Linked DNA regions of Homo sapiens. The protein of the gene in region 1 purifies or fractionates together with the protein of each later gene. This does not show direct contact. Each region holds a gene or a part of one and is shown in the gene's direction. Other genes may lie near its edges. The genes, in order: SHISA2 and EPHX1.

Region 1 (4,287 bases):
TGACATTGAAATTTTTTTTAGCTTACTAGCTTAAGACATTTGGTGAATAGTGCATTTAAAGTATATAATTTTGTGTAGCTTAAAACGATACACAACCAAAAAACTGCAAGAAAACAAAGTGCAATGCTTGGAGAGAGGTTTAGTGAAAAGAATAAGGTGTGTGTTGGGGAGCAGGGACATAGGGTAGGGTTTTTTTTCTTGGATTTGACATTGTTGGGGCAAGTGGAAGAATAATCAACAATGTCTGAATCTTCACATTAACCAGGCATACACAAGCATCCAATGGCTGCTTGAACCTGAGTGTCTTTGCTGTGAATAAAACTGCCTGTGTTCTGAAGTCATGGACTTGAAAGGGACCTTAGTGATCGTCACATCCTATGCTCCACTTTATAGATGAAGAAACTGAGACCAGAAAAACGCAGTGATTCCCTGCTAGTAGGGCTGGGTCTAGAATTCAGGTCTGCTGACTCCCAGACGGTGTGGGAAGGGGCATTCGTTCCTTTAAAAATAAGCACTGCTGCTTTAATAACATCAGCACCTGTTGTTCCAGCTTCTGCAAGAGAGAAGCTATTAATTTCTCCTTCATCAAAGCTGAATTTCTGGTCTGTCTGAACCTTGTTTTCTTCCTGACTGCAGCTGTCTAAACCACTAAGGCCACATGTTGGACGGAGGCACTTTCCTGCTGGAATCCGATAAATCACCACACCCAAATATAGAAAGAAAAAGGGACACAGATCATCCACACCGTGGCCGAATGTGTGACATCTTTGCTGAACTCTCTCCGTTCCACCTTGTGGTGGAGGCCTCCAGTCCACCAAACACAGCCCTAGGCGTGTGAACCCTGCCACAAACATCGGTGCTCTTCCTGCACAGGGCCTGGGACCAACCGTGGCCAGGACATCAGCTGCTGGAAGCCGAGAGAGTTCATCTGAGTGGCGATTTTATGATCTGCAGAGTGGAAAGTAATCATAATCCCTTGAGAAGTTTGCAGAATCGAACCGAATGTTGAATGCCAAAGATCTTCACAAAGCAAGTTGAGTTTCTTCCGTTATTATTGTTATTTGTGTTAGCGAGGCCTGGATTGCTTAGGTTGGGTTTCCTCCCGCGCCTATTCCAGCAGGCAGACCCCGCCCTTGGCCACACCTTTCTCCTTGCCCGGGGTAGGAAAGTGAGGGGCTGCCCGGCGCCCGCGGGCGTCCCTGAGGTCGGGGGTGGGGGGGAGCCGCGCAGCGCGCATGCGCGCCGGGGAGCCGCCGGCCTCTATAAGAGCGCGGCTCAGCGCGGCAGCGAGCGGAGTCGGAGCTGGTCTGGCGCCGGGCGGGGCGAGGCGAGGCTGTGGGCGGCTGCTGCGCTCGGCTTCTCCCGTAGCCCGGAGGAAAGAAACTTCCGTGGGAGGCTTCCATCGGTGCGCACACCTCCCGAGGGCGAGGCAGCGACCGGGAGAGGGAGAGCCGGCCGGAGGCTGCCGGGCTCCTGTGGGACCGCGCTGCAGCCGGGGAGGCGGAGAAGGGGAACCGGGGCGAGCCGCCCGCCTGGATCCGCGCCCAGCAGCAGCCGCGGCCGCCGCCAGCTGGGCAGGCTCCCGGGACTGCGGCTGGGGGCGCGCAGGACCCTCGCCTGCGTCCTGGACGTTCCCGGGGTCAGGAGCGCTCCCTCGGCGACGTGCTGGGAAGATTGGCCGTCGGCCCCGCCGAGTGGAGCGTCGGGGCTGCACCCCCGTGGGCTGCCCGGGCGGCCCGGCCGGAGCCATGCGGACCAAGTTCGGGGCAGAGGAGGCTGAGCGCGGCCGGCTGCGTCACTTGCTGCCCAGAGCCTTGCGTGCACTGCCCGCCTTCGCCCCTTCTACCCGCCCGAGGAGGGAATAAAGGAGGGGAGACGGGCCCTGATTCGCGCGCGGGACCCTGAGGCTTAAACCCTGCGCAGAGCCCTGGCTCCAGGTCCGCGGCGGCGCGCCCAGCGGTCATTCGGCTCGAGTGAGCATCCCTTCGGGGATGCTCAGGGAGGGTCCGGTTGCCAGTGAAACCTCCAGAGGCTTCCGGACGACAGCCCCGGGGGCCTTCTGACTGCATCCCGAGATTTCCATCAGCGAGTGCAACTCATAAGGCAGTCCCTAAGGGGACCGGGCCACCGGCTGAGGACGGGGATGGCTTAGGAGCTCCTGGACCTAGGGCCCGGCGTCGTCGCCTCCTGGGCGTCGCGGCAGAGGGGAGTGGCCCGCGCGGAAAGCGCCGCGGGACAGTCAGTGACGAGGCCCGGGGGTCGCCGGGGCCACGACTTCTCGGAGACCGTCCTGCGCTCTCTGGAGACGCGCTGTCCGCGCCCAGGGTGGTGCCATGTGGGGCGCTCGCCGCTCGTCCGTCTCCTCATCCTGGAACGCCGCTTCGCTCCTGCAGCTGCTGCTGGCTGCGCTGCTGGCGGCGGGGGCGAGGGCCAGCGGCGAGTACTGCCACGGCTGGCTGGACGCGCAGGGCGTCTGGCGCATCGGCTTCCAGTGTCCCGAGCGCTTCGACGGCGGCGACGCCACCATCTGCTGCGGCAGCTGCGCGTTGCGCTACTGCTGCTCCAGCGCCGAGGCGCGCCTGGACCAGGGCGGCTGCGACAATGACCGCCAGCAGGGCGCTGGCGAGCCTGGCCGGGCGGACAAAGACGGCCCCGACGGCTCGGCAGGTAGGGCGGCCTGCGCCCAGCGCGAAAGGGAGGACGGTTGGCGTTGCCTGGACGTCAGGGACCTGGGAGTTTGAAGGGGGGAAATTCAGGAAAGGGCCTAGGACCAGGAGGCGGAGTCTGCCTTCTGGCTTATTATTTGGTCGGTGTGGGTCCCTAATTCACCCTCACGGGCCTCAGTTTCTCCATCTGTCAGCCAAAGGGTGGCTTAGAGTTAATTTTCCGAACAAAATCACACTCCTAAGGCAGTGTGGGCCACAGACAGCCCCCATATTCCTTCTGACCAGGGTCCTCCGGGCCCCTCTGGCGTCTCCTGTCTCCATAGGGCTTCATGTCTTAGGGGTACCCAAGGAGACGGCGAGGGTGCGCCCCCACCCGTGAGGGCCTGGCAGCGGTGCTCCCCTGAAGGCTCCCCGAAAGGAAGGCAGCTCCTCAGGGCTTTCCCGGGGCTGCTGCCCCGTGCCAGACGCCGCGGATTCCCATCTTCTCCACGCGGCGGCCCCTCTCCCCTGCAGCGGCCCGCCTGTGGGGCTTCTGGACTGTTTTCCTTACCACGTCAGACTTAGTAGGTGTAACATCGGAGCAGTGCCCAGCCTTGCTCTTTGTGGCTTTGATTTTTTTTTTCTTTCAAATTGCCAAAGCCAGAGTTGGAAAGTAAACCCGTGAAAGAATTTGGTAGGTTGCACTTCACTCTTCAGAAACCTTCCGGAATGCCTCCCTGGGGTGTCTACACCAGTCACTCCGTGTGTGTGTGTGTGTGTGTGTGTGTGTGTGTGTGTGTTATTTATTTCGGGGGAGGGGAGGTGTAGAGGTAAAATGGCAAACGTGTCCCCGAGGGGGCGGCTCCTCCTCTTTGTGGGCCCGTTGTGTTTACCTGGGAGGCTTTTCGCTAGCATCCTGAGCCTGGGTTCGGGCTGCTTGAGCTTTGGCACAGCGTAGTTTGTGTTTATAGAGCTGCCTCCCAGGACCTCGTGAGAGACAGCTCTTTTCAGTGCCGTTCCCTTTCGCAGTCAAGCATTTTATTAGCATGCTACTCCTATTGTTCTGCTGTCTTGAATCTGAAGAGAGCGTAATTCCAGAACCAGCGCAGTCTTAAAACGCAAGCTCAGTCTCGCAGACTGTGTGGCCATGGAAGAAAGCCCAGAGAAGGGAGCCAGACCCCGAACTGCTACAGTGAGATGTCTGCTAGATTGGGCTCATTAATGGTCTCCAAAAAGTTGGGATGGCTTTGGATTAGTCGGGACTTCTCAGGACGAGACTTCTCATGACGCCCTGTGTTGTGCATGGATGCCTTCTTCATGCTACTTTTAAACGTTTTTTTCCTAAAAATTGTATTTCTTTCACTTTTCTTCTGCAGTGAAGGGCAACATGCCTAATTAAGCCTGCCGGGGGGCTTATAGTAGCGTTACATTCCTTATCCCTGTGTAGTTATTTACATTTCCAATTAAAAATCCTGGAAAGAGAACACTTATTTCTCCCCAAAACTCATTATGTGGACTGAGGCTGGTTTCAGCTAGTTTCTGCTATGATTGGGGTACATTTTTTTTCCTGCTTTACTACTATTAATTTATTTTTTGATAACATATTTAGGGCTGGTGTCTTAATTTAGAGAATGAAATATTT
Region 2 (3,803 bases), on another chromosome or scaffold:
TGGAAGCAACTCAACAGCTCTAATTTTAATTGGCAGAATGTGAGATGGAATGGGACCTCAAATGAAACTCCAGGCCAAGAGCTCATGAGCCCTGCAGCATGTGGGGCATCTCTCGGTCTTCTTGAGTTCTGTAACTTAAAGTTTGTGTGGCCTTTAAAGAGTGTGGAAGTAGCCGTCCCCTCTCCGAAGGTGCACAGGATTTGGCCAGCCCACCCGCGTGGCCTTCCCCTTCCCCTCTCCAGACCCTCCACAGCAGATGGGGCCACGGAGGCCTGGAGAAGTGGAGTCACTGACCTGAGGCTACATGGCTGGCAGGCAGCAGGGCCAGGCAGCAAAGCAGGCAGTGAGGGCCTAACTGCCCGCGGGCTGGCTCGGGGCTCCCTCAACCACATTGGCATCCCAGTGCCAATCCCAAATTGTTTTCTTTCTATCTCTCCAGACATGTAGATAGCATGGAGGTGGAGGGAATTCCCTCCCACACAGAGGGCGATATGCCCCAGAACAGCACTCCTGCCCCCAAGAAGGCTGTCTCCTGACACTTTTTACTGCTCTTTTACTCTCCCCCAGCTTTTTTTTTCCTGCTTGTAAACTGCATTTTTCCTTTCCCTTGGTTTCTGGCTCTAAGCTGTTTTCCCAGGGCTTGGCTCCGGCGCTTGCACAGAGATAAACACGGCCATTGGCCTGGTGCACAATCCCAGCTTGCCTGCATCCGGCCTCTTCCATCCTGAGTCTCCAGGGGTCCCTGGGGTTCAGGGACAATGGCTGAGGGAGAAGCTGGGAGTTCCCCCCAGGGTTTGCCTCCGTCACTCTTGGGCCAGCCAAGGGAGTGGGGCTGGGAGCTTCAGGATGGCTTTTGGGAAGCCCCTGGGAGCCCCAAGGCTTGGGTAGCTGCTGACAGGGAGTTCACAGCAGGAACGCTCCCAGGCTCCCATCCTGCGTCCGCTTGGCAGGCAGGCCAGGAATGGGAGGGAAGCCATCCGTTTTTCCCTTTCCACTGGATGTTCCCTTCGCCTTCCCCAGGGAGGAGTGATGAGGCTGGGGTGCTGGGGAGGGCAGTATGGGGGCAGGCTTGGGACCAGGCCTGCAGAAGCAGCAGACCCTCCAAGCCCACCTACCTCTCTGGCCTGGCATCTGAGGGGCAGGTCATGCCATAGTTTTTCCCTTACCCTCTCTGCCCCCACACTTTCCTCCCCAAAGTGGCAGACTTCCCCCAGGAGAAGCACTGGCTTTTCACGCTGCTGTGAGTCTCAGTCACTATTAGAGAAACACAGTCAGAGCCAGGCCTGCCCAACTGTCGCAGGGCTGGGTCCACCTCATGGCCTTTGTTCTGGAAAAATACTTGGGCATTCTGCCCTGCAATGCACTTAGCCAAGGCCGGGCACATGGCAAGTGCTGAGTCATGGCCGGCTAGCACTTTACTGCGATTTTAGGAGCACTTTCTTGTGGTGAGGTTCTGACTGCTTGCTTGGGTTGGGGGAGGGGAGTCTTTGGGCAGGCGGTAGACCTGCCCTTTACTTTGTGTGGCCGGATCTGAGTCTGACCCCATCTTTTTAGACCCAAAACCCTGATATTTGTAGTGCGCCTAGGATACTGGTTCTCCAGTCTTCTTTGGGGTCAGGGGGCGTTATAGTGCCTCATGCCACCTACTCAGCCCTCTTCCTGCATCTTATGGTCTGTCTCTACCAACTAGGCTAAGTAGGTTATATTTATTATTCCTCAAGGGGAATTCAGCTCTTCTTGTTCAAAAGTTCTGATTAATTTTCTATGCTCTCATTCAAAGAATTTTTAAATTCATTCATTCATTCAACAAATAATTAAGCTTCTACTAGAATGCCAGGCACTGAGAGTCCAGATGGGAGCCAAAGCAGACATGGTCAGTGGCCTACAGGAGCTTCCGTCCAGCTGTCAGTCACATAATCACCCTGACAAATGTGAGCTCGACGAAGGCTAGGACTGAGAGATCTGCCTTGCTGGGATAGGTCAGGAGAGGCTACCCAGAGGAGGGACAGTCAGTCTGAAATCTGAAAGGTGGATAGAAGTTAGGGAGGTGGGAAGGGGAGGGAATAGCTTTTCGACAGAGGGATTCGCCTTCATAAAGCCCCACAGTAAGACAGCATGGTGAGCACAAAACTGAAAGATCGGGGGGCAGCGTGAGATCCCAGCCCTAAAACTCTCACTTAGCTTTCAAGTAAACTGTTTCTCCATAATATTGATACCAGTAGCACTCTGAGGGGCTAGGGGAGTGGTGAGATCACACAGGCCTTGAAGGCCACACTAACCCAAGGACAATGGGAAGCTCTTTAAGGGTTTCGCAGGGGATGGGATATACATGATCAGATTTGCATTTCCAAAAGATCACTCTGGCCTGGCTCATGCCTGTAATCCAGCTATTTGGGAGGCTAAAGCAGGAGGATCACTTGAGCCCAGGAGTTTGAGACCAGCCTGGGCAATATAGTGAGAACCTGTCTCCATTAAAAAAAAAAAAAAAAAAAAGGTTTGTATGGTGGCTCACGCCTGTAATCCCAGCACTTTGGGAGGCGGAGGCGGGCGGATCACGAGGTCAGGAGATTGAGACCATCCTGGCCAATATGGTGAAACCCCATCTCTGCTAAAAATACAAAAAATTAGCCGGGCGTAGTGGCGGGCGCCTGTAGTCCCAGCTACTTGGGAGGCTGAGGCAGGAGAATGGCGTGAACCCGGGAGGCGGAGCTTGCAGTGAGCCGAGATTGCGCCACTGCACTCCAGCCTGGGCGACAGAGCGAGACTCCGTCTCAAAAAAAAAAAAAAAAAAAAATACAAAAATTATCTGGGCATGGTGGCATGCGCCTGTAGTCCCCGCTACTCAGGAGACTGAGGCAGGAGACTTGCTTGAACCAGGGCGGAGGTTGCAGTGAGCCGAGATCGTGCCACTGCACTCCAGCCTGGGGACAGAGAGAGACTCCATCTAAAAAAAAAAAAAATGTTTTAAAAAGATTGCTGTGGCTTCAGAGTGGCCATTGTGTTGGAAGGGGTAGAGCAGATGTGAGTGGACCGGGCAGGGTAGTAGTCCAGGGGAGAGCCACAGGAACCTGGGCTGGGTTGGAGATGGATTTGAGATGTACTTTGGAAGTTCAGCTGCCAGAACTTACTGATATCTGTGGCGGAGTGAAGGAGAGGGGTTTCAAGGACGTTGCCTGGGTTTTTGGCTTGGCAGTAGCAGGGCGGGTAATGTCAGTTACTGAGGGAGGGAACACCAAGAGAAGACAAAGTTTAGGGGGACAGGATCACAGTGCGATTTCAGATGCACTGGAGAAAATTTTGACACAAGGTACTGTCTGGGCCCCAGGTGGCTCTGCTCTAATACATTTATAACTCTTTGTCCGCACTTAATCACTCTGTCATACTTAGCTGCCAGGGGGCCAAGAAATGTCAAGTGTTTGGCTGGTCTTCTCCAACTAAAATTAAAAATCCTTTGCTAAGGAAGAAGGAGAGAACATTGCTAGCAGTCTGCCTCAACATCCCAATCTGATGGCGTATTTGCCGCAGCCACCAGCTCATCAAGGACAGCTGCGGTGAACCTTTGAGTTCTGAGTAATCTCCTGTCTGGGCCACCTTTCTTCACTCAACCACAAAATCCTCACATTCCCAAGTATATTTTCTTTCTTTCTTTTTTTTGTTTTTTTGAGACAGAGTCTTGCTGTGTTCCCCAGGCTGGAGTGCAGTGGTGTGATCTTGGCTCACTGCAACCTCCGCCTCCTGGGTTCAAGCAATTCTCCCTGCCTCAGCCTCCTGAGTAGCTGGGATTACAGGCATGCCCGGCTAAT

What was found.
Region 2: the proteins of SHISA2 (region 1) and EPHX1 purify together in Homo sapiens (affinity purification with mass spectrometry; one large-scale study listed by BioGRID and IntAct). This does not show direct contact.

Annotation. Positions count from the first base shown.
Region 1 is NC_000013.11:26,049,022-26,053,308, reverse strand, and holds the start of SHISA2 (protein shisa-2 homolog precursor), read left to right. Parts: upstream 1-1,292; 5' UTR 1,293-2,333; coding exon 2,334-2,667; intron 2,668-4,287. UniProt on the Homo sapiens protein: Plays an essential role in the maturation of presomitic mesoderm cells by individual attenuation of both FGF and WNT signaling.
Region 2 is NC_000001.11:225,816,454-225,820,256, forward strand, and holds part of EPHX1 (epoxide hydrolase 1), read left to right. Parts: intron 1-3,803. UniProt on the Homo sapiens protein: Biotransformation enzyme that catalyzes the hydrolysis of arene and aliphatic epoxides to less reactive and more water soluble dihydrodiols by the trans addition of water.